Linked DNA regions of Homo sapiens: regions 2, 3, 4 and 5 are each linked to region 1. The links come from fine-mapping of genetic effects on gene expression. A gene starts in region 1. Each other region holds a variant in brackets. All regions are shown on one strand. Distances are between the middles of the regions. Region 1 holds the start of MAN1C1 (mannosidase alpha class 1C member 1). Region 2 overlaps MAN1C1 (mannosidase alpha class 1C member 1). Region 3 overlaps MAN1C1 (mannosidase alpha class 1C member 1). Region 4 overlaps MAN1C1 (mannosidase alpha class 1C member 1). Region 5 overlaps MAN1C1 (mannosidase alpha class 1C member 1).

Evidence for each region.
Region 2: its variant is fine-mapped to the expression of MAN1C1 in whole blood (TOPMed, PIP above 0.99).
Region 3: its variant is fine-mapped to the expression of MAN1C1 in whole blood (TOPMed, PIP above 0.99).
Region 4: its variant is fine-mapped to the expression of MAN1C1 in whole blood (INTERVAL, PIP 0.98).
Region 5: its variant is fine-mapped to the expression of MAN1C1 in sigmoid colon (GTEx, PIP above 0.99). The same link has a PIP of 0.9 or more in esophagus muscle, gastroesophageal junction and tibial artery.

The regions. Positions count from the first base shown.
Region 1 is chr1:25,613,876-25,618,976 of GRCh38, reverse strand. MAN1C1 (mannosidase alpha class 1C member 1) reads right to left here and starts at 2,186. Exons shown (of 12, transcript NM_020379.4): 1 at 640-2,186. The coding sequence starts at 1,179. RefSeq lists silencers at 1,961-2,250, 2,271-2,560 and an enhancer at 2,751-2,920.
Region 2 is chr1:25,675,320-25,680,420 of GRCh38, reverse strand. The region is part of intron 1 of MAN1C1 (mannosidase alpha class 1C member 1); the gene reads right to left. Among named protein-coding and RNA genes, the nearest start is that of MAN1C1, 61 kb to the right of the region's middle. RefSeq lists an enhancer at 3,978-4,027 and a silencer at 4,108-4,177. The variant T/C (reference allele first, on the strand shown) is at 3,156.
Region 3 is chr1:25,727,954-25,733,054 of GRCh38, reverse strand. All of the region lies in intron 2 of MAN1C1 (mannosidase alpha class 1C member 1), which reads right to left. Among named protein-coding and RNA genes, the nearest start is that of SELENON, 70 kb to the left of the region's middle. The variant T/C (reference allele first, on the strand shown) is at 2,082.
Region 4 is chr1:25,763,053-25,768,153 of GRCh38, reverse strand. MAN1C1 (mannosidase alpha class 1C member 1) reads right to left here. Exons shown (of 12, transcript NM_020379.4): 7 at 4,187-4,280. Among named protein-coding and RNA genes, the nearest start is that of SELENON, 35 kb to the left of the region's middle. The variant G/A (reference allele first, on the strand shown) is at 2,030.
Region 5 is chr1:25,741,975-25,747,075 of GRCh38, reverse strand. MAN1C1 (mannosidase alpha class 1C member 1) reads right to left here. Exons shown (of 12, transcript NM_020379.4): 3 at 293-408. Among named protein-coding and RNA genes, the nearest start is that of SELENON, 56 kb to the left of the region's middle. The variant G/A (reference allele first, on the strand shown) is at 2,658.

The DNA of each region.
Region 1 (5,101 bases):
CTGCTTTATCATCTCTTCCTGCATCATATGCAATTATGTACAATTGTGTACAATTGTTCTGAAGCTCAATAAGCTCAATAGAAACAGAATGCACAACATCCTCTGGTTTGTAGGTTGCTTACTAGATTACAAAATATTTGCAGGACACCAAATACCCCCTTAAATCCTGGGTTTTTAGGTAAGCAGGTCCTATAGGGGTTTTGGACTTAAGGTCACACAGTGAAAAAGAATGGGACCAGTGGCTCTGTGTCCACAAATGCAAAAAGAGGGTGCACTAAGGAACCTGAACTCCACTCTCATTAGCAACTCCACAAAGGGAAGGAGTGGAGCTCACTGGGCCTGGGGGTTGGATACGACATACCAGAGTCTGGGAGTGAGGGGGCAGTTGGTCTAGGGGTTCAGCTGCCATCTGTCACGGTGGGGACGATTAACTGACCCGAGTGGTGGGAAACTGTGTAGGGAGGAAAGAAGGTGGGACATTTGGGAGGAAAGGGGAAGGTGCAAAGTGCAGTCTGCAGGGCCAGAAGTAGACCTGGGACCAGGAGTGACTGAGGCAAGGGAAAGGGGTGGGAGCGCCAGAGGGTCTTCTCTCCTTAGAGGGGGCAGTTGGTGGGAGGAGTTTGGGGGCTGAGTCCATACCTCCTTGATTTTCTCCCGCTGGGCTCGCACTTGGCTCTGGGGCTCCTGACTCTCATCGGCCCTCGTTCCCAGGACCGGGTGGCGGAGACGGCTCCGGAATGCGTTGAAGTCAAAGCGGAAAGGGACGCCCTCGTCCCCGGGCCTGGAGGCCGGGATGCTATTGCCCCGGGCCGCCGTGGCCTCCTCGCGGGGTCCAGTGGGGCGGGTGCGCCGCAGCCCCCCTTTCCTGCGGCGGGGACTGGCCCAGCTGCTGGGGTCATCCTCGCCCGGGGCCGGCGCGGCGGGGGCCGGGTTGGGAGGCGGCTCCTGCTCGCGGGCCGGGGCATGGCCGGCGATTTCAGCCACCACTTCCAGACCAGGCTGCTGGGTCCGGGGGGCCAGGAAGAGGCGCTTGAGGCGAGAGGAGTGGGGCAGCAGGAAGAGGGCCCCGAAGCACAGGGTGACCAGGCCCGAGAGGAAGAGGAGGAAGAGGAACTTCTGCGGCAGCCGCAGCCCCCACGGGGAGGCCGGGACGAAGCCGGGCACTTTCCTCATGAGCATCGTGGCCCGGCCGGTGGCTCCAGAAGCCCTCGGAGTCCAGGCACGTGTCTGCGGGGGCGCGGTGAGGGGAGGGCGTCCGGAGCGCCGCCCGGGATGGGGGTCCCTGGGCAGGGTTGCCAACCCTGAGAGTTTCGCCGCTTCGGGGGACTGTCCCCGAAGTTCAGGGAGTTTGGAGCGAGTCCTCCCGCGAGGAGGCGGGGGCGCAGCGGCCTCGGCGGGGCCCGGGCGAGCGGAGCGGCACGGCTTGGGGCCCGGGCCCGCAGCGACCGGCCGCGCGCCGCAGCCTCCCCTCCGGCCGAGCCCTCCCCGCCGCGCCGGGGCCCGCGCCTTCCCGCGCTGCGGCCGCCGGGACCGTCACATGCCGTCCGCGGCGTCCCGGCTGTCCGCGCCGAGGGGCGCCCGCAGGCCCGCACCAAGCCGCCCTCCGCCCCCTAGGCTCCCGCCCGCGCTGGTAGGCGCCCAAAGTTTCAGCTTCAGAAGCAGTTTCCGGAGGGGACCGAGGCGATGGGGGGCTGGCGTGTCAGCGCCGCCCCGAGCGCGCGCACACCCGGCCCGGTCGCGACAGCGCCCGGGCTCGACTATCGGGACACGTCCACAACTTTCTCCGCCGCGGAGAGGGCGCCGGGAGCTGGGAGCCGGAGTGGCCAGGGAGCAGGAGCAGGCACTTCCGAGCCTGCGGGGGCAGGGGGCTTCCCCCGGGCCCCAGACAGCGCAGGGATGCCTGGGTCCGGAGCCGCGGCTGGGCGGCTGCAGATGCGCCCGGGAGCGCGGGCTCCCGCCCCTCGAACTCGGCAGGGCGCGGGGCTCCCACTGGGATCACCTGTTCCCGGCCCCGCCGGCTCCGCGGAGCGCGCAGCCCTGGCCGCGCCTCCCCCGCTGCAGCTGTCTTCCTCGCAGCGGCCGCTCCAGACCGGCCGCTGCCGCCGAGCCTGCGCCCCACACGCGCGCACAGCCACCCGGCCGCCTCCACCGCCGTCCCCGCCGCCGCCGCCGCTCGGGCTTTCACTGCGACAGCGCCCGCCGCCCCGCCTCCTGCCGCCCGCCGGCCACGCCCGCCGGCCACGCCCACGCGCGCGCCCCGCGCCCCCTCCCGCCGCCGCCGCGCCGCAGCCGGCTGAGGGCCGCGCGTCCGGGGGCGGGGCAGAGGCCGAGCGCGGGCGGGAGCGCAGCCCGCTCCAAGCCCCGCCCTCCCCGAAGGGCAGGCGTCGCGCGCACCCCCCATCCAGCGGGCGCCAATGGTCCAGCGGCGCGGGGCAGGCGAGGGCGGGGGCGGAGAGCGCAACGAGGGCATTGGCTGCATCCGAGGGATCCCCGTTGGGCCACAGTCGTCCATTGGTTACTGCCCAGCCTTCGCTGGACCCCAAGCGACAGAGACCACCCCCCAGCCCGCCCGCGAGGCTCGGGTTGGTGGCCCCCGGAAGCGGGCCGGAGACGGTGTTGCTCTGGAGGGGTGTGCCCGTCGCTGGGTGACCTCTCTCGCCCCCGAGTGCCAGCCCGGGGTTGTCAGGGAGCTGGCAGCCCGCGCCCTGGCGGCTGCCCCGGGCTTCTCAGCGCTAACGCCGGGCTGCAGGGGTGCTGCTGGTGGCTGGAGCCAAGCCAGAGAGCTGTGACCGCGGCCGGGTCGGCGGAGGTGATGTTTCCACTGGCCCCCTCGCAGACCACTGGCGTGCCTTCCTTTTCCCACAACCCTAAACGGGGCCAGGGCTCCTGGGTGGAGCACGGAGGGAGGCTGACCGCAGCCTTGAGAAGCAGCGAAAGGAAGAGAGCCCCGGGCGTGTCTACAGAAGACCACACACATAATGTGACGGACGTCTACCTTGATGCCTACGTGTGTTTATATGCACATGTGTGCGTCTGGGCATAGATCTATATGCACACAGAGACTGGCATGTGGGTGTGTACATGCACTCAAACATACACTTAATTTGGGTATGGACACCCAAGTGATTATACCACAGTATGCATAGACATATATGTAAATTAGTACAAACATGGACATGTGCACCCGCATACCCACAGACACTCAGGCAACAGATAACCTCCAAAAACAGCCAGGCATCAACTCCCAGACACGCGTGTCCTCAACCCCAAGGCCCTCACATCTTCCTCCTTGGACTTAGTCTCTGCATCTTCCCTTCCTGTTAAACCTAACCCAGGGTGAAGCAACATTGTGCTGTGTGGGTCTTTCATGCAAAACACTTTATAGAGACAAATAACAGCAGAGGGAGAGACAAATTAAGAGGTTTGTAATAGGCAAGAGGGAAAATATCTACTTTCAGCTGCAATTTAAAATGAAATGCAGTGTTGACGAGACAGAAAATACTGCAGGGAAGCCTTTCCCGACAGAAGAAGCGGGCCAGGCAGGCTCTCGCCTCGTAAATCTTGCTTCTTCCCTGAGGCCTGCTGGGGATGGGCGGCTGGGACTCAGTCATCCTTCTACCTCTGGCCAGACCACTGACAGCAGACCCACCCTCGATGTTTAAATATCCCTGGCATGCAACTTTCTCTCAACTGAAAATGAAAGTGGGTAACAGGTGCAAACATTTTGGTCACTGGAGATGACTAATCCTTCCCAATCCCACAAATATATGCAGCTTAAATATAAAATTCTAATTCAGATATTTCAATCTCTTGTGAGTTTCGTTGGCAGGTTGATGTGGAGCCAGCTGTGCAAATCAGAGATAAGCATGTGACCCATTTGGGTGCAGGAGCCCAGAGACCTGGCCTGGCCTCACCCATGTCTCCAACACCCAAGCATCGCCTCACTGGGTCCCACTGCAGGAAAGGGCAACCTTGTCTTTGGAGAACCAGGCAGGGACCCAGCATTCATTAGAGTCATCATCTGTGTTGTTCCTCATTGAGAGTGTAGGGGAATCACTGTTCAGTCCCCTGTGAAGGTAGGATCCAGAAAGGGAGAAGAGCAGAGCTGAATCTCAGAAGGAAATGTCTGTTTGAACTAGATGCTCACTGTGATGTGACACTCTGACCAAACTCTGGTGTGCTCTGTGAGCCAGGGTGGAAAGTGGGGCTGCAGCAGGACTGACGTGCCTTTCACACTCAGGCTATGAAAACCAGAGGCCCCAGCAGGTAACTCCATTGCAAAGTGATGTGATGTTGGTGATCACACCAAGTTGTTGATACCATCACTTGCTAGGGAGATACCAGTCTCTCTAAAAAGCTCTCTGAAACCCTGGGTGTCCCCTTGCCCCACACCTCTAGCCCCCAGAGACCTCATACATCCCGTGGCTCTTCTCCCACTGACTTTTAAAGACTATTGGTGTGTTGTCACAAAGCAGATGCTCAGTTCTTCACCACGGCTTCCTCACTTCTCTAACTCTCTAACTTCTCTAACTGCCCCGGGTCTTAACCACAATGCCTTCCACATGGGCACTGTGTTTGCTCAGTAAATGAATGAAGAAATGAGTGAGTAGATGCCCATTTCACAGATGTAGAAACTGAAGCTCGGGGAATGGAAGAACAGTGAACTAACATTTTCTATGTGCCAAATACATATTGTCTTATTTACTTTTCAGAATAATCTTTGTGGTAGATAATTATTAATAGCCCCATTTTACAGATAAGAATACCAAGGCTTAGAGAGACTTGGGATGAGTTATAAGTATCTATATTAATCAGAGTTCTCCAGAACAGAACCAATAGGCTATATATAGATATATAAAAAGAGATTTATTATGAGGGATTGACTTCTGTGATTATGGAAGGCTGAGAAGTTCCACAATCTGCCATCTGCAATCTGGAGGTCTAAAAAGCTGGTGGTGTAGTTCCAGTCCAAGCCAGGAGGCCTGAGAACCACAAGAGCCGATAGTGTAAATCCCAGTCTGAGTCTGAAGACCCGAGAACCAGGAGAGCTGATGTCCAAGGGCAGGAGAAGATGGATGTTCCAGCTCAAGCACAGAGCATG
Region 2 (5,101 bases), 61 kb before region 1:
TTTTCTACAATTGATTGTGGTGATTATTCACAATTTGTGAATATATTAAAATGACTGAGGCTGGGCATGGTGGCTCACACGTGTAATCCCAGCACTTTGGGAGGCCCAGGTGGGCGGATCATCTGAGGCCAGGAGTTCAAAACCAGCCTGGCCAACATGGTGAAATCTTGTCTCTACTAAACATACAAAAATTAGCCAGGTGTGGTGGCAGGTGCCTGTAATCCCAGGTACTTAGGAGGCTGAGGCAGGAGAATTTCTTGAACCCGGGAGGCAGAGGTTGTAGTGAGCCGAGATTGCGCCACTGCACTCCAGCCTGAGCCACAGAGCAAGACTCCGTCTCAAAAATGAAATAAAATGACTAAAATTTATACTTTAAAAGTCAGATATTATGGTATATGAATTTTATGGTATGTGAAATATATATATGTGTGTGTGTGTGTGTATATATATATATATATATATATATATATTTTTTTTTTTTTTGAGACAGAGGTCTTGCTGTGTCACCTAGGCCTCTACCCAGAGGTAGGCTCTATCTCAAAAAAAGAAAAAAAAGAAAAAGAAAAATGTCATTCTTTTTGGAAATATACAATGAAGTATTTAAGGGTAGAGGACATTATATTTGCAACTTTCAAATTGGTTCACAAGACAATATGTATGTACATGTGTATACATATATTATACATACAGTGTGCATATATATGATATATATGTAAAGCAAATGAGTGAAAAACAGAGAGAGAAAGCAAACAGGGTAAAATTAATGTTAACGTTTGCGGAATCTGGGTGAAGGTAAACGTAAGATCCTTGCTAGATTTTTGTAACTTTTCCGTAAGTCTGAAATGCCTTTTTTTTTTTTTTTAACTCATTTAGGAAATTTTACTGGAGGCTGTTATTTTCACCCAAATTTATACATTACACAATTCTATTTTCCTTCACTTTTTATAAATTACAACAGAATGTGGCCATTGTCAGTCTCCCTGAAGTTCTTCTTAGCCCCCAGTTCCTCAATGGCCTGGATGGGTCTTCATGTCCGTCTCACCAAGCCTGTTCCCCACGCTGGTCAGAGAAGGAAGAAGTCTGGTGAACAAATTAGGAACTAGCTATTTTGGTTTCTCCTTTTATAATTATATTAGCATGCTCAAAGGAGGTGCCTGTTTTCTTCCTACTCCAAAAAAATTAAAAGGCTCCTTTGGTGGTTCTGAGAATTTTCTACAAGTCTCAGCTCAATTCAGGCTTCAGCCCTCATGCCCGCTTCTCCCACTTCTGGGTCACTCCCTTCTCTTGAACTCAGCTCTGTGCCCCTTCCTTCTCTCTTCTGCATAAATCCTTTCAGGTAATTTTAAAAACAAGGTTCACCTCTCTCTCTCTTGTCTCATCTCTCTCTCTCGTCTTGTTTCTCTCTCTCTCTCTCGTCTCCTCTCTCTCTCTTCTTGTCTCTGTCTCTCTACCTTTTAATGTATCAAAGGCACACAAGCTCGCTGAAGAAAAGCAGAAAAAGAGAAGGAAAACAACTGCCCATTATTTAACAACCACCATTCCCATTTTGGCGTCTTTCTCTGCAGGTACCTTTGTTTTTCCCTCTCATATTGTACCTTTGTTTCTTCCCATAATTATGACATATTCCAATTTTATTACAAAGGCTTTGTAAACATCACTTTTAATAGCTATATAATAGCTTAGAAAGTGGGTTCATCATCATTTACTTCACCTCCTTCCCATATAATTAGACATTTTGGTGATTTCTAGTTTGGGGCTATTGTAAATAATGCCATAGTGAACATCTCTGTGCACATAACATTTTGAATAATTTCCTTAGACCAGAGTTTCTAAGAAGTTGCTAAGAAAAAACTTTTAAAGTTATTAATATGTAACGCCCTTTTAAGAGATTACAGCCAGACAGCATGTTTTGCCCACCACTGTGCAAAACTTGGTGAACAGGAAACTGTTTAACGATTTTGAGACAATACGGTAAAGTAGTTCACTTGGGGAGATAAAACTAACAAAATGAACAATCATCACTTATATTTGTGCAGCTCTTTGCATATTTTATCTCATTTGATTTGGCCAGTTCAGTGGGCTGGACAAGACAGATATTTGTTCCATTTGGAAATAATTATGCAAGGGCTAAAGTAGGAGATGTAAAGTAGTAAATAGGTATTAAAAATTGTGTTTACAAATGTTTCATGATAGGCAAAAATGCTCAGTATATATTATTAGGTGGAAAGGCAGAACACAAAATTACATAGTATGAAATTCACTGGCCTATGTATGAGTGTTTACAAAAAAGACTGAAAGAAAATATACCAAATTCTTAACAGCGGTTATGTCTGATAGAAGTTTAGTGATTTCTATCTTTTTCTTCTTATTGACCTATATTTTCTGAATTTTCTACAGTGAATATCTAGAAAGGTTTTGTGATGTGAAAAATACAGGTTGTTAAAATGAAAAACAAAAAGAAGACATCGTATGGTGCTACCCTTAAGTCAAAAGCAAGTGCCTGGGTGGTCAGCCATGGGGTAGGTCGGACCAAGTTAGGTTTTGATTAAAAAAAAAAAAAAAAAAAAAAAAAAAGGAGGTCTTTACAGCAGGGAGTCAGAGAGAAGGTCACCCAGCAAGAGAAACAACATCAAACAGAAGCACAGATCCAGAACTCCAGAGTCAAAGAGAATTTTAAGACCAGAAACATCATCTATTCTCAAAGCCACATTTTATAAGAATATAGACTCAGAAAGGGAAGGGACTTGCCTCGGCCAGGACACAGACACTAATAGCACAGAGATAACCATGTCTCTAAGAAACATGGGCCAGGGCAGTGCAGTAGCTGACTGGGGAAAGGGCCAGAGCTACAGCAAGAGATACTCAGGACAGGTGCAAGAACATGACAGTCGGAACCAATCAACATGAGAACTATGCACCAAAAGAAACTGTACCCCTGTCCCCACTAGGTTCTAGAAACGCGCAACAGGCAGTCATTGTGTGTGTGTACGTGTGTGTGTGTGTGTGTGTCCCTGCTAGAGATAGAGGGTGGCTCTAGATGGTCTCTGGAAGCCCCTCCCTTCCTGTAGCCTGTGATTTATAGATTCAAAGAGCACCTAACAATAGACCACAAAGCCTTCCCTTCACTCAAGTCTTGCAAAGGTGGAAAACAAAGC[T/C]CCAATGATAGAGAGATACAGGCAGAGCCATCGGAGCTGAATCCCAAGAAATCTCTTCAGTTCTTCCTCAAACAAAAGATGTTCTTGTCTACCTGAACAAATCAAAATGACACGGAATTTTTTAGTGCAAAATATTTACTAGTGTGAGGCAGAACATTATTATTTGGTTTAAGATTTTCTTTCTACCTGTCTCAGAGCTCAAGAGTTCTCTCCTGCAGAAAAGAGACTAGAATCGATCACCCAGGCACAGATGCCCACTCAGCTGAGGACCCCAGAACAATGAGATCAAGAGAGAAAGGATGCATTAGAGGAGGGGAGGACACGTGGGTGCCAGCAGACCACTCCCAGAGTGGAAAACTCCAAAGTTTGTGTTGGACAGTTCTCTGGGGGTACAACTTGGAAGGAAGGGGGTGAGCATTGAATATTGAGACATTCTCCCCCACTTTAAAAAATCACACACATACACACAAGGCTGGCTCTGGCAGTGACCCAGAACCACAGTTGCTACATTCAAAGCTGCCAAGGAAGGAAATGGATTTTCCCAGTCATTAAAGACAAGTGCTCACACCATGACGTGCAGCCTTACTGGCGTCTCCCAGCAGTGACACCTGGCCCCATTTGCAGGGGCCAAGTGGGAAGGGATTTGGTCTCTAACGATCCTGGGATCTAATGACTATGTAGACAGAGAGCTTAGAACATTGGGTTGATTTTTTTCTCCTCTTCCACTTTCAGCACAGTCCAAGGGAAGAGCTGACAGCTTGGCACCTAAAAACTATCCACGTTGGATTTTCTGATCCAGTTCCATTTATTGGGGCAACACAACATGACCTGGTTGGTGACCCCAGTGAGGCTCCTGCAAATACACAGCCCAGGTCTATCGCTCAGAAGCTGGGCACGGGTGGGGTTTGGTTGCCCGGGGAGGTGAAGCGGGGGAGTAGAAGGGGAGATGCTGCCTCCAACCCTCTCAGTTTCGGGTTTACTCAAGCTATTGAAAGGCCAATGTGGGAAATGAGCATATGATACAACTCCCACCCACCTGAGGTCCAGACAGCTCACCCACATCCTGCCCATGGGGTTTCAGGTTTGAGCAGTCTCAGGAATCGCATCCTGTCTGCAGCTGTTTCTAAGGCATCAGGGTCGAGAGTGTGGGCCATACAGGCAGAGAAACTCTCGCTGCTCAAAGTGCTCCAGGGACCAGGAGTAGGGCCACCCAGGGGGCACGTCAGAAACAGAGTACCTCAGTTCCACTCTCCCACCTGCTGAATCTGTAGCAGCAGTTTAACAAGAGCCCCAGGTGATTCAAACGCACATTGAAGCTTGAGAGGCTGCTCTAGGGCTCTGCCACCTTACTGGCTGTGTGGCCTTGAGTGAGTGACTTAACCCCTGTAAGTCTCAGTTTCCTCATCTGTAAAAGGACAGAAATACTTAATCCTTAGAATAACCCTAAGAGTAAATAACAGATGTAAAGTGTTGAGCACAATGGCTCGTATATAATATGTGCTCAATAAAAAGCAGCCATGGCATGGATGTGGTGAAAAGTGAACACTTTTACACTGCTGGTGGGAATATAAGTTAGTACAACCACTATGGAAAACAGTATGGAGATTCCTTAAAGAACTAAAAGTAGAACTATCATTTGATCCAGCAATCCCACACTGGGTAACCACCTCCCCCCCCCCCCGCAAAATAAGTCATTATATGAAAAAGACACTTGCATACACATTTATAGCAGCACAATTTGCAATTGCAAAGATACGAAACCAACCCAAGTGCCCATCGACCAATGAGTGGATAAAGAAAATGTGGCATATATACACCATGGAATACTACTCAGCCATAGAAAGGAATGAAATAATGTCCTTTGCAGCAACTTAGAAGGAGCTGAAGGCTCTTATTCTAAGTGAAGTAACTCAGGATTGGAAAACTAAATATTGTATATTCTCACT
Region 3 (5,101 bases), 110 kb before region 1:
GGGGAGCCTCCAGCTGTCTTTGACAGTGCCAGAGCCTCCCAGGCCCACGGACACAGGGTTGCAGTGCTGTCTTGGGTATACATTGTGGCCACACAGAGCTATGCATTGATCATGGCAAACACGGCCTGTGGACCACAGCCAAGAGGTGCAGATGCATGGCTCTGATAACAAGATTAATGATGATTATTGGAAAGGAGAAAAGAAAGGAAATCAAAGAGGTCCCATTCACCCCTGTAAAACATTAAGAGATAGCAGAGGCAGTGCCAGGAGAGCCTGGTAGGGAGCTGAGCCCCAGGGAGGGTCTTTGTAGTTGCTGGGATAGCTTAGCTGCAGGCAGTGGGCCAGCAGAATGGGTTGAGTCCTGGAAACCCACGCTTGGATCCACCACTTACTAGCTGCCTCAGTTTCCTCATCCTCCACAGTGGGAGCAAGACCTCCACCTTGCAAACCATCCTGAGGGCTAGAGATCATGCAAAATGCCGGACGCCGCAGACGCAAACCTGCGTGAAGGCCGACACCATGTTGCTGAGCGCACCACAGACAGCACCTCTTTTAAGTCTCACAACACCTGAGGAGGAGGGTGCAATTCCTGCCCCTGTTTTACAGATGGGGAAACTGAGGCTTAGAGAATCATCTAAACCTCCCAGGGCTGATGAACAGGGAGCCAGGACTCAACTCTGGCCATCTTCCCTGGTTGCTCTGCCCTTCACTGCTGTGCCATTCCATTCCTGCACAACTTGGGAGACTGGGCCTGGTTTGGAGGGTCCAAGAAGGTCCCAGGGAAGTACTCTTGGCTTTGAGACCACAGGCTACCTCCTGAAGGCCTGTGGCTTAGCCTGACCCTATCTCCCACCTCTGGGCTGGAGCAAGGCCCCCCTGCAGCAGGCACTACCTTGCAGAGAGCTGCCGCCTCTCCCTAGGAGCCTGGGCACCCTCTGCAGGAGCCCCCCCAGATGCCCTCGAGGGATGGCTCTTCTTACCTACACCATTCTGGGCCCCACCACTGATCCCCTGGCCCAGGCTCACTCATAGGAGGGTCTGAGTTGGTCTTTTTCTCTGACAGATGGTAGCCCTGGAAGGAAGAGATCCTGCCAGATGCATCTTTGGAGCCACCAAAGAGCCTAGTGTGATGCCAGGTGCATGGTAGGTTTGGAGTAAATATATAGTAAATTAACCCTGACATAGAACAGAGCAGGAGCCGAGAGCACACATGACCACAGGCCAGACAGGTGGCCTTCTCTCCATCAGGCCATGACGAATCCATCTGGTTTACTCCCAGCATCAGTAAAGAGGAGACCAGCCCACACTCCTATAGACCAAGGGCCTCCCTTTTCTTTGGTCCACAGGCCCCTTCCAGAACCTCACAGAAGCCACTCAGGCTTCCCCTTGCCAGACTTACCTGTGTTAGAGAGGGAGGAAGGAGCCTGAGACAGATTCCTACAAAGGACAGAGTAGGGCAGAAACTTTGGAATCAGGTAGACTTAGAATAAAATCATAATTGTCCTATTACTAGCTGTGTGACTTCTGGTCAGCTACCTTATCTCATGAGCCTCAACATCCTCCTCTGTGAAATGCAGATAATGTAGACGACTGAAGCCACTGATGCTAGTGGATACACAATGAGGTTTGTTTTCCTTAAATGTAAATGGACTACAGAGGATACCTATGAGTTGCCTCTCATTTGATGATGATGATGATGATGATGATGATGATGATGACGATGATGATGATTATTGTTATTTTTTGAGTCAGGGTCTCACTCTGTTGTCCAAGCTGCAGTGCAGTGGCACGATCACAGCTCACTGCAGCCTTGACTTCCCTGGGCTCACGTGATCCTCCCACCTCAGCCTCCTGAGTAGCTGGACTACATGAGCATGCCACCACGCCTGGCTAATTTTTTTGTACAGACGGGGTTTCGCCATGTTGCCCAGGCTGGTCTCAAACTCCTGGGCTCAGGCGGTCTGTCCACCTCGACCTCCCAAAGTGCTGGGATTACAGGCATGAGCCACCAGGCCTGGCCTCATTTGATTTTTTTAAAGCAGCAGCGATTGTGGGGGAAGCACAGGCTTGTGGTCAAACCA[T/C]GTGCCTTGGCTCTGTGGCTTACCAGCCTGTGACCACAGCCAAATGACTTAACCTCTCTGAGCCAGCAGCGAGTCTGCATCTGTCCAAGGTACTAGCAATAACCCTGTCGCAGATGTGGGTGGCCTGAATCAGGTGAAGGGTGCAGGACTCCATGAACAGAGTCTGGCAGGAGAGTGAAAAGGAGGAGGAAGTGCCCACACAGGGAGAACCCCCTCCCCGCTTGCCCTGTCCACCCACCCACAGCCAAGCCAGGCCTCATCCAGTCGTGACAGCCCTGAGCATGCTTCTGGGGCAAGAACTGCCTCTGTTTCAGACCTCAGTGCCCAAACAATTCACAAATGCAGCAAACGTGCCACGGCCCAGGAGACAGCTCTCCGCTTCAGAGAAAACACACAGTTCAATTTCCTAAAGATCGAAGCCCAGGAGCATTTCAAGGCTTTCCTGGCGAGAGCAGTTCTCAGAACTCAGGAGGCACCACCCTCATGTGACTGAACAATTAAAGCCCCTAGTATTTGTCATTCTCAGCTAAGGTTTTCGAGGATGGCTGAGAAAACTAAAAAAAAAAAAAAATCTGATTTTGGCAGTGTGGCTTTCAGAAATATATGGTAATCCATTTTTGTCAATTCACAGAAGGCACAGCTCAAATCATTAAAAAGCCATCGTGCTTAATCATGCGTGGAGAAGGCCAGTCTCTGCCTCTGAGATCATTTTAAAACGGTTTCAGGGTAACTGTCAAAAACTGACAGGGAAGCAGGGAGGGGATTATGACAGACCATAATCTGAGGAATTTCTCTTTCTGGTTCTCAAAGGGTAAGGGATTTATCTGAGAGGAAATCACCACCCAGACCTTGGCCTTGGTGCTGGTGGGGACAGTGGTGAGGAAGATTCTAGGATGCATCAGGCCTGACCTCTGTCCTTACGGAGGCTGCAGCTGCTTTCTCAGAAAGACAGTAAGCAATTTCCCAGCAAAACAGCAAGTAAATGAATGATTATGAAGCCTTGTGACAGGTGCTAAGAATAGGTGGAAGTTTATGCAGCTGTTAAGGCCTGGCTGTGAGCCACGGGGACCTGGGTTTGGAATTTGACTTTGCCACTCTGCAGCTGTGTGACCTCACACACACTCCTCACAGACCTGGGTTCCTCATCTAGAAAATGGGATGCCTGGCCAGGCACGGGGGCTCATGCCTGTAATCCCAACACTTTGGGAGACCGAGGTGGGCAGATCATGAGGTCAAGAGATGGAGACTATCCTGGCCAACATGGTGACACCCTGTCTCTATTAAAAATATAAAAATTAGCTGGGCGTGGTGGTGGGCGCCTGTAGTCCCAGCTACTCGGGAGGCTGAGGCAGGAGAATTGCTTGAACCCTGGAGGCAGAGGTTGCAGTGAGCCGAGATCATGCCATTGCACTCCAGCCTGGGTGACAGAACTAGATCACATCATTGCACTCCAGCCTGGGCAACAGAGCGAGACACCATCTCAAAAAAAAAAAAAAGAAGAAAAAGAAAATGGGACGCCTGCCTTGTAGGCTTGGGAGCTCAATGAGTTAATTCCTGGGAAGCTTTTATTGCAGTGCCTGGTACACAGTAAGCTCTCAATAAATGCTGGCCGAGTGGCTAACTCTGCTCAGGAAGCCTCATGGACCTGTGATGGATCGGGAAGGATGAGCAGGAACCCGCAGGGTGGAGAGCAACAGGGGGGACATTCCAGGCAGAGAGCACAGCATGTGCAAAGGCCCTGAGGTAGGAAGCTGGTCAGGGAGGAGCATAGGTTTCGGGGGAGGGAATAAGGGGAGCAATGTGGCCAGTCAGCTGGAGCCATCCTGGGAAAGACTTCAAATGCAGGCCAAGGGGTTTGGTCTCTATGTTGAGGGCCATGAGGAGCCACAGAGGGGTGTCTCAGGGCTGGGCCATGAGCAAACCATGTACATTAGAAGCTAACGAAGGGGCAAGAGGCTGCCGAGAAGGCTGGAACAGCATTTGGAGATCCAGAATCCTTCTGGGGTCAGAGCCACACAGCGAGTCTTCTTCCAGGTCTCAGACCACACTGGGCACTTGTTGACGCCTAGGTGACCAAACTCTCACTAGGGGTCCCCAGCCTTTATTTGAGGGTAATATCCTCTACTGTGCCAGCAACGATTCTGCACCAGTTCCCCTTCCTTAGACAGAGCCGTTGAAGGGAAATAGCCGCCCAGGCAGGCACTGCGTTTCCCAGCCTTTCTGCATCTAGGTGGAGCCGCAGGACCCAATGGGGTGTGGGCATAGGCTCCATACACCACTTTGAGGCCTGGCCCATAAAAACCATTCATGGATATTCCAAGGCCGAGGCAATCTTGGGTGTTACAACCTGAAGATGATGGCGCCTCCATCACCCTGAGTGCCTGAGTCATCAGAGGGAACAGAGCTCTCCCCACCATCAATATGACTTTACATGAGCAAGAAAGAAATGTCTGTTGTCTCCAAGCACTGAAGTCTCTGGGTTTATCTGTCACAGCAGCCAGCATTACCCTAAACAGACCCACCAGGCAGAATGACCTTGAGCACTTCACCTCCCTGAGCCTGTTTCTCTCAAACAGATTGTTGTGAGTGCCTAATACGATGACAAGTGTGAGTGCTTTGCAAGCAGCGAGGAACCACAGAGATCCGTCTGTCATGGGGTTACTGGCTTTGGTCCCTCTGAGAACCCGAGGTTGCAGAGGGGAGGGGACTCCGGCCAGTCCCTGCTGAGGCAGGGGAGTGCAGCAGCTAAGGCCCGGAGAAGCTCGCAGCAGGGGCTCAAGATCCACCAGCAGGTCCTGGCCTAGGCTGGGGACTCTCACTCCAGGCTTTAGTTCAGCCCTTTGAGAGATGCTCCTCAAATAGCTGAGCCGCCCAAAGGGAGGAGGCTGGGGCCTGGCTTCCATCTCCTGGAAGCTGCCCCGGGAAGCAGTCCTCCCAGCCTCTCTCTGATAACTTGTTCCAACCTCTCACAACTCATTAACAGGAAACTGCATTCCCTGCCAGGAAGACGCACGCCTGAT
Region 4 (5,101 bases), 150 kb before region 1:
GGGGGAGTGTATGTAGTGTGTGTGTGTTAAGGGAGCGTGGATGTATGTGAGGGGTGTGTGGGTCTGTGTGTGGGGGGGAGTGTGTGTGTGTGTGAGGGGAGTGTGGATGTATGTGAGGGGAGTGTGGGTGTGTGGGTCTGTGTGTGTGGGGGAGTGTATGTAATGTGTGTGTGGTGTGTGTGAGGGGAGTGTGGATGTATGTGAGGGGAGTGTGGGTGTGTGGGTCTGTGTGGGGGAGTGTGTAATGTGTGTGTATGAGGGGAGTGTGAATGTATGTGAGGGGAGTGTGTGGGGGGAGTGTATGTAATGTGTGTGTAGTGTGTGTGAGGGGAGTGTGGATGTACGTGAGGGGAGTGTGTAATGCGTGTGTGTTAGGGGAGTGTGGATTATGTGAGGGGAGTGTGGGTGTGTGGGTCTGTGTGTGTGAGGGGAGTGTGTAATGTATGTGTGAGGGGAGTGTGGATGTATGTAAGGAGAGTGTGGCTGTGTGGGTCTGTGTGTGGGGGGAGTGTGTAATGTGTGTGTGTGAGGGGAGTGTGGATGTATGTGAGGGTAGTGTGGTATGTGGGTCTGTGTGTGTGGGTGTGTGTGAGGGGAGTGTGTGTGAGGGGAGTGTGTGTAGGAGTGTATGTAGTATGTAATGTGTGTGTGAGGGAAGTGTGGATGTATGTGAGGGGAGTGTGGGTGTGTGGGTCTGTGTGTATGGTGGAGTGTGTAATGTGTGTGTGTCTGGGAGGGTGGGTGGGGTGGTAGGGGTGTGTGTGTGTGTGTGTGGAGTGTGGACGTATGTGAGGGTAGTGGTGTGTGGGTCTGTGTGTGGGGGGAGTGTGTGAGGGGAGTGTGGGTGTGTGAGGGGAGAGTAGGAGTGTATGTAGTGTGTAATGTGTGTGTGTGAGGGGAGTGTGGATGTGAGGGGAGTGTGGGTGTGTGTGTATGGGGGAGTGTGTAATGTGTGTGTGTCTGGGAGGGTGGGTGGGGTGGTAGGGGTGTGTGTGTGTGTGTACGAGTGTGGTCTTCCCCAACACTGCGAGGCGGGCTGGGAGAAGCACAGGCATAGGAATGAGAAGACATTGTTCTGCATTAGCTCAGGGTGCACCCCTGCCCACTCTGGGCCTTGGTCTCCCCATCTGCAGATGTGTGAAGGGGGCACGAGCTGGTGTCCGTGAGCCCCAGAGCAGAGGCAGGCTCTGCTGCTTCCTGACCGTGCCAATGCGCTCGTCACACCTGGCAGCAGGAGGCTGGGCCACAAGCCTGGAAATCAGCCGATCTGATGCCAGGGAAGCTGCCAGGCTGCAGCTCACACTCCTGTACCTACCAAGGAGGTCTGGACTTGCCACTTCCCTCCCACAGAAGAAAGTGTGGGATTCAGGCAGTGGACAAGTTACTCAGGTGCCGCACCGAGGGGCTGGTGACCCCTCCTCGGCAGCTCTCAGGGGGTTGGCCTCAGGGTGGTCTCATTTGTGTTGGGCACCATCGGGAGCCTGGTGGATTTATCCTGGATGTGAACTCTTAGCAATAGGACGGGTCTTGGGGCTCCCCTGTTACCCCTGAAGCTCGGTTTCCAGGAGGAGTGGGAAGCCAACAAGAGCAGAGGCCTAGGTAACTGAGATGCAGTCCTAACTCCTCCTTCGTTTCTCTAGGCTGCAATTTCTGTGGTTGCAAATGGGCTACGCAGAACCTGCCTGTCCTGCCTTCAGGCTTGTTCTGAAGATTCAAGAAGAGAAAATGATGTGCGTGCACTTAAGCTTATGCAAGGTGGTAATGCTATCAAGTGCTAAAAGAATACGTATGCACCAAAAAAAAAACCAACAAAAAACCACAGGAAACCTGAGATGACCCCGGGCACCAAGGCCAGGGGAGGAGGAAGGCAGACGTTTGGGCGAGCTGGGCATTATAACCCCCTCTGCTCTTTAGCAGGCCGAGGGCTCAGATTTTATTAATAGGAAACAATTTCCCATATGCGACTGACTTTGCCCAGACCTGCAGGCCCTGACTCTGCCTGAGAAGAAAATTATGCTTCCCGGCAGGG[G/A]CTCCCTTATAATTTGCCAAGGTAACTGTTGAGCTAGGAAGCCCACACCCCTTTCAGCCCTTTTCATGGGTTCTGCTGCCTTGCCCTGGAGCAGCTCAGAGGGGTTTATCTCCTTATCCAGTCAGGTCTCGCAATTAAAACCAGCAACTGTTATCGAACTGCCTCTTCCCGTGGCTATAATCTGCAATTCAAGCTTCATTTTCTCCCCGTACTTTTGGATTCGGCAGTGTGTTTTGGTTAAAAATACTCTGCATTTCTCTAAGTGGTTTTTACGGGAGGCCACTTGGGGTGAGGTCGTCCCTGGGGGAAATTCCTGGGTTGAGTTTTCTGGGGGAGGTTCAGGTTGGAAGGAAAGGCCTCAGCTGCTTCGCCACAGTGTCCCCAATGCTGCCTCTCTAGGCCCCACTTGCATTGTTCCCTTTTGGGACAACTTGGACCATCTTTGGCAGATGGAAGTGAAATCTGTTTCCTGCAGCCTTTGACCATTCTTCCTACGCCCCTCCATGGCACACAAAGAATGCATCTCATTCTCTTCTTTCATTTTGCAGGACAGGAAACCAAGGTTCAAAGAGATACAGTGAATTCCCCCCTAAGCCACACAGTCATTAGACTCATACCCACTTTGCCCCTGAGCCCTTGCTGATGTCACAAAAACTGGGTTGGAGGCAGGGGAAAGGGAAGGGGGTCCTTGTTTGCACACAGACAGTGGGGGTGGGGGCTCTGCCAGGTCTTGGGAGGCCCTAGAGGCAGTGCCCACGGAACCTGTCACTGCCAGTTCCAGCTGACCATGACCATGTGACCAGGGCCTGCCTCTGCTTCCCAGAGCTGGGCTTCTCAACAGGCATGCACATTCCAGAGGCCTGGGGGACTTGTCCACACTCTCACACCTAAGCGACCCCAAACCCCATTCTGTTGCAATGGGTAGGGCTGGGGGCTTGTGAATGATGTTCCATGGGTGACTGGCTGTTATCTGGCTGAGAAACAAGTCTCTGAACAGAGACCTTCTGAAAACTCTGGGACTGATTCTTGTAGGTCTAAGATGTATAGATGAATTCATGACGTCTTTTGTTTTTTTTTGGGACGGAGTCTTGCTCTGTCGCCCAGGTTGAAGTGCAGTGGTGCGGTCTTGGCTCACTGCAACCTCCGCCTCCCGGGTTCAAGCGATTCTCCTGCCTCAGCCTCCTGAGTAGCTGGGACTAGAGACACGTGCCACCACACCCAGCTACTTTTTGTATTTTTAGTAGAGACAGGGTTTCGCCATGTTGGCCAGGCTGGTCTAGAACTCCTGACCTCGTGATCCGCCTGCCTCGGCCTCCCGTCAGGTGCTTGGCCTGAATTCATGATTTCTACACTGTTGTATGGTTTTTGTTTGTTTGTTTGTTTGTTTGTTTTTTAAATTAAAGTTGGAGCCAGGCGTGGTGGCTCACGCCTGTAATCCCAGCACTTTGGGAGGCCGAGGCGGTTGGATCATTTGAGGTCAGGAGTTCGAGACCAGCTTGGCCAACATCTCTACTAAACCCCATCTCTACTAAAAATACAAAAAAAGTAGCCAGACATGGTGGCACATGCTTGTAGTCCCAGCTACTCGGGTGGCTGAGTCAGGAGAATCACTTGAACCTGGGAGGCAGAGGTTGCAGTGAGCCGAGATCGTGCCACTGCACTCCGGCCTGGGTGACAGAGTGAGACTCTGTCTCAAAAACAAAAAAACAAAAAAAAATTGAAGTTGGAAGTGGGGAGCCTGATCAAAGAGGCTTGGAAAGGATGCCTGGCCTCTCTTGGAGCCACTTCTAGAATGGATGACTCCACCTGGGACCCTCCCGAGAACCTGGGGTATAATGCAGGAGGCTCCCGCAGCAGCATAAGAGATGGAAGGCTGCGCCATTGATGGGGCCAGAGAAGGTAGGGTTTGGAACGCACAGGGCAGGCCTTCAGTAAACAGCAGCCATCACATCCGGCACTGCAGCAGCAGACAACCACAGGCAAGCCCCCAGGATGCATGGGAAGGCAGGTGGTGTCCAGGAGCACCGAGCGAATGCCTTGCTGGCTGCATGGCTCTGACAGACACATCCTCACTCAGCCCAGGGGCCTGGCAGGGTCTTCCTAGGAAGCCTGGGCAGGAACCCGCTGAATAAGGGGCAGTGGCGTCTCTGTACTCACGTTGCACCCAGTTCCCACTCACTGGGCTGAGGAAGTTGGGGTAGAGGCCAAAGGGCTTTTCGATCTTCCTGAGGACCTTGCGGATGTTCCTGACCTGCCGAGAGACGGACACCAGGTGAGCCTTCATGCTTCCGAAGAAGCCGACTGCACCCAGCCTGCTGAGGATGGGAGGCAGCTGGTTCAGATGCATGGAGGAAACCTTATGAGGAGGCAGGAAGGGAGAGCTGCCCAACGGACTGCAGGCTCCAACCCGGGGATGGTGACGTGGCCTTGCCCTGGTGCCACGTGAAGGGTGTGACAGGGCCTGATCCATAGCCTCTCCACTGACTGCTCTGCCTGGCACCTGGACAGTCTCAACCCCAGAACCACTGCCTGGCCGACTCCTATCCCACCCAACTCTCAACACTTCCTCATTGCTTGCTGCTTTAGGGGTACTTTGAGGGATTCTTTTGGGGAGGGTTTTTTTTTTTTTTTTTTTTTTGAGACAGTCTCACTCTGTCACTCAGGCTGGAGTGCAGTGGCACGATCTTGGCTCACTGCAACCTCTGCCTCCCAGGTTCAAGCAATGTTCGTGCCTCAGCCTCCTGAGTAGCTGAGATTACAGGCCTGTGCCACCACTCCTGGCTAATTTTTGTATTTTTAGTAGAGACAGGGTTTCACCATGTCAGCCAAGCTGGTCTCAAACTCCTGACCTTTTTTTTTGAGACAGTCTCAATCCATCACCCAGGCTGGAGTGCGGTAGCGCAATCTCAGCTCACGGCAACCTCCACCTCCCGGGTTCAAGTGGTTCTCCCGTCTCAGCCTCCTCAGTAGTTAAGACTACAGGCATGCACCACCACACCTGGCTAATTTTTGTATTTTTAGTAGAGATGGGGTTTCGCCATGTTGGCCAGGCTGGTCTCGAACTCTTGACCT
Region 5 (5,101 bases), 130 kb before region 1:
AATGTGCCCCAGATGAGCAATGACTGACCTTGCAGGGAGGGGATGGATGGTCGTGGCTGTGTCCCCTCCCCAGGGAAGATGCTAGACTGGGGAGGATGTCCCCACCTCAAGGCTGTCTTAAGGAAGGGACTCAGCACAGACTGCACGGCAGCTCCGGTTCCGAGACTGCTGGGCTGTGCAGCCGTGGGAGAGACCCTCAACATCTCTGGGTCTCAGAGATGACAGGGTGAAGCTGGCTGTTGGGCCTCTTCTGGCCCCCGCCCCCCTCCCCCGCCGAGGGCCTCTGACTCACCACGTTCAGGTGGAAGCTCTCTCCCACCCAGGCCTTGGCCTCCTGGAACTCCTCCTTCAGCTCCATGAGGTAGAGGGTATCGAGGGAGTCAATGACTGTTGCCCCGCTGAGGCCTCCTGCAGGCACAGAGCATTGAGGGTGTGACCCAGGGCCATCTTTCTCTTTTCCCCAACTGGACAAGCCACCGTTCTCAGGGCCCCTCCAATGCCAGCGCAGGCTTGGTGGCAAAGGCTGGCCTCAGGCACCATCCGGGGGACTCCAGTGCCACCATCGAAGGTGACGCCGAGACCCAGAGTCCCCGCCATGGGCTGCTTCCTCCTCAAGGCAGCAAACAGCGGCCAGAGAGACCGAGGGCCCAGGCTGAGCCACTTCCCAGACTCGGTCCACTCTTCTGTTGGTCAGCGGGTCAACTATCAGTGCCAATCAGCCACCCACTTTTCTCTGCTTTGGCATATAAAAATCTTTGTTTGTTTGTTTTTGAGACAGGGTCTTACTCTGTCACCCAGTCTGGAGTGCAATGGTGCGATCTCGGCTCACTCCAACCTCTGCCTCCCAGGTTCAAGCGATTCTCCCACCTCAGCCTCCCAAGTAGCTGGGACCACAGGTGTCCACCACCACGCCCAGATAATTTTTGTATTTTTAGTAGAGATGGGGTTTCACCATGTTGGCCAGGCTGGTCTTGAACTCCTGGCCTCAAGTGATCCACCCACTTCGGCCTCCCAAAGTGCTGGATTACAGGCGTGAGCCGTGAGCCACCTCATCCAGCCTGGCATACAAAAATCTTTTTTTTTTGGAGACAGAATCTTGTTCTGTCGCTCAGACTGGAGTATAATGGTGCTATCTCAGCTCACTGAGACCTTCATCTCCTGGGTTCAAGCGATTCTCGTGCCTCAGCCTCCCAAGTAGCTGGGATTACAGATGCATGCTACCACACTCAGCTAATTTTTGTATTTTTAGTAGAGAGTGGGTTTCACCATGTTGGCCAAGGCTGGTCTCGAATGCCTGGCCTCAAGTGATCTGCCTGCTTTGGTCTCCCAAAGTGCTGGAATTACAGGCGTGAGCCACTGCACCTGGCCCAAAAATCAACCGTGCCAATCCTCTGTCTCTTCAAGATTAGTTGTAGCTAATAGAGGGTGAACTATGGCTCAAATATAAAATAGGATACCATGCAGTCATCCACGCAGGTGAGGTCGACCTGTGCCTATTTACCTGGGGAGACATCCACGGGATCTTTTTCTTTCTTTCTTTCTTTCTTTTTAAGTAAATTGCAAATAAGAAAAAAACACAGTATAATTCTTATTGTACATCAAAGTGTAAGTGTACAGAACTAAGTCTGGTATGACCCACTGACTACCTCTGAGTGCCGGGATTACAGGTGCCTTTTGATTTCTTCAGCTCATGGGTTACTTTCTTATAACCAGAAACTTATTTCCATTAAAAAAAAAAAAGGAAAGAAAATTTGGGCAAAGAAACCAAACAAATACACAAAGTAAAAATTTGCGGCCATTCTCATTCTAGTGCACGAACCAGCTACGAGGCCTGGCCCCTACCACTGGGCATCAGGCACCTGTCCTGGGAGTAAAGGCTGAGATAAGTGCAAAATGATAGTTTTCCATCCCATGAACCAGACAGAAGAGTAATGAGGAAGACACCCTCTGGCACAACCAGAGCCTTTTGCACTCAGTGCAGAAAACTGTGAAGGTGGAGGGGAGGGAGAAAGGGACATGCCTGCTACTATCTGAAAGGCTTCCTGAAAGAGGTGGCGCCTCCCATCAACTCCTTACAACTATGGAGTCATTGCAGGCAGCAGTAGTTTCCTTTAGGGACCAGAGTGTAACCCTAAGAGGAGTAATTGTTCCTTCAGTGTCCTCCCTGCAGAGGCTGAAAACATTGAGAGTCACAGGCTCCACCTTCCGCAGTGGAAACTCTGGAGCCTGTTGAGCCCACTTGAGTCTGCAGCGTGGGCTTTGCGGCACCTCCTGAATTCAGAGTTAGCCTCTAATCTCCTTAATGAGTGCTTCCTAACTGCTCACTTGTGTTGACTGAAGGCAGAGAATCCTTCTGAAATTCACACACTTAACCACCTCTCTAGGCTGGGCAAGGTCTGAAAAAGGATACAGCCTGGAAAAAGAATGGAAGTGAGGGTGAGAGGGAGGGAGAAGTTAGGAGGAAGATGAGGCTGGAGGTCAAAGAATCTATTACCAGAAGGGAGGGCCCGCCAAGGAGGGAGCAGAGGGCTGGAGGCACCCAGCCCTGTGTCCTGGGATGGGCTGGAGGTCGGAGAATCTATTACCAGAAGGGAGTTCGCCAAGGAGGGAGGAGAAGGCTGGAAGGACCCAGCACTGCGTCCTGGGATGGCTTCCCT[G/A]TTTGGGCTGAAGTGAATTTCCAGAATGTCAGCCCCTCCCATGCTTAAGAAGTGGTAGGAAAACACATCCCAAAGCCAAACAGACTTGATCCTTTGCCGGTTCATCCCAGCTGCTTCCCCTGTAGGTGGCAGGGCTGAACAGAGTTCCTGGCCCGTATTCACCCTCTCGAGGTGCTCAAGCAGGGAGGCACTGAGGAGCCCAGGCAGACTGAGCAAAGCAGATCGTGCCCAGCACACAGGGTACAGGCCTGGTGTCCATGCTCCTGGCTGTAGCTCAGGCCCCTTCCTGTTCTATCACAGGACCTCAAACCAGACGTTTGAAGGGCCTGGAAGAATCTGGGGGATCCTGCTGCCCCTACCCCTTCATTGTCATAGATGAAGACCTCAGAGAGGGGATGGGACACACTCAAGATTAGACCAAGGGGGGACTGGCCCAGCCCCAGGCCAAGTGGAATGTGTTTTCCACGCATCAGGCATTGCAGGGCCGCTCAATTCTCTGTGAAAACAGTTGCAGATCTGATTGCTCACCCCACCCCACCCACTCTGATCAGTTACGGATCAAGAGAGGCCCAGGCCGTATGTCCTTCAAGGCCAGGGGAGAGGCAGCCGCAGTGTCTGATTTCTGAATCCTGCCTTGAGCTCCCTGGTGTTTTCACCCCATGCGCCCTTCTTCCTCTAGATCAGGCTGGGAGGGCAGCCAGGACTCCTCGTGACCAGCTCTGCCCCGTGACGTCCCTGGGGACGCTCTATGAGGCCAGCTGAGAAAGCAGCTTGCTAAGAGATTTGTTGGCAAGTTCCTGCCCCTGCTCTCAGGCTCCTGAATCCTTCTCTTGGTTGGTCTCCCACCCCCATTCCCACCTGGCACATGGCTGAGCTGCAGTCCAGCAAGGCACTTACTGGAAAGCCTTTCATTCCAGTCCAGAGGCTACTCAGCGGTCAGGCTGGGCAGGAGAGAAGGCCCTATCCTGAATTCAACCCTATTTGCACCTGCAGCCACCCTGGGGCAGCTCCCCAGGAGGAAAGACACACTCCCTGTTCAGTAAACAGACCATGATTTATACACAAAGAGCCAGCTTGGACGCTTCCCTAGGGCTGTGGCTGGGGCGGGCTCCATGTTGGTCCACTTTCCTGTTCCAGTTCTGAAGCCATGGGGTTCACCCCTTCCTGCTAGTGCAGAAGGCAGTGAGGTGTCTTAGAAATAATACAGGCCCAGAAATCAGCAGCCCCGCGTTCAAATGCCGCTATGAGCCAGCAACACATCTGCTCTAAGCATCAAAGTTCTCATCTATAAAATGAGGTTAAGACCACTGGACCAGGGCACTGGGGAGCCACTGCAGGTTCCTGAGCCAGGATAAATACATCACATACACACCTGGCCTAGATACATCTGATAAATACAACCTATATGCTTGGCACAGACTAAGTGCTTGATAAATCAGTTCATTGAACCGATTGTTCATCAGTTCTGGGGTCCCTTAGTTCACCTTGAAATAGCAGCCTGGCCAGGGAGTGAGGAAGGGCAACGAGGTCAGGGAGACCCTCTTGATCCTTTCCTTTGGGAGGGTTCGGACCTTTGGCTACTGAATAAAGCCTTTGCAAGGCAACCTCACACATAGCTAAGAGGCTGGCTTTGGTGTCAGGGAGATGTTCAAATCCTGGCCTCTTATACCCTAGCTGTGCAATAGGGCAAGCCATTCTACCTCTTTGTGCCTCGTTTCCCTCATCTGCAAAATGGCGGTGACACTAGGACCTGCCTCATAAGGCTCCTGGGAGGGTTAAATGGGGTAGGTTGATGGACAAGGGCTGGCATGATAGTGAGTACATGTGGCCCTCCTTGCCCCTACTGGCACTGGGCAGCCCCTCCACAAAAATCTTCTTGGGTCAGTGAGGCCTTGGGGTGCAACTACATTCCCGGCCCTCTCTCTCACCCTGCAGGGCAACGTGAGCGTGAGATTGCAGCTTGCAAAAACCCTTGGCCCAACTTAAAGGAAAACCGCCCCACAGGTCCCATCTGTATCTGCTGCCGAGGCCATCACTACCTGATCTGGTTGTGTAGTTGCCTCCAAAAGGGTCCTCCTATCTCCAAGACCCCTTCCCTTTACCTCTTATTCACTCTAAAGCCAGATCCAACTTGGGTCTCTCCCCAAGCTCAGGAACTGCCAATGGTTCCTCAGTACCCATGTAGGAAGGGGTGCAAGCTCCTGCTTCCATACCTTGGCAAGTGTGGTCTTCTCTGCCAAGAAATCTTCTCTGTGCATCTTGGCATGTTCAACACTAACATGTTCTTCAAGGTCTACCTCCCAGGGGCAGCCTGAACTGGTTCCACTAGCTAACCTCTTCTTGCCCTGAGAGTGCCCACAGCACTTTCTTGGGCACCCACCACTACCTCCCTGCACTGTGGGGCTTTGCCTCCCTAACTAGACTGTGAGCCCCTTGAGGTCAAG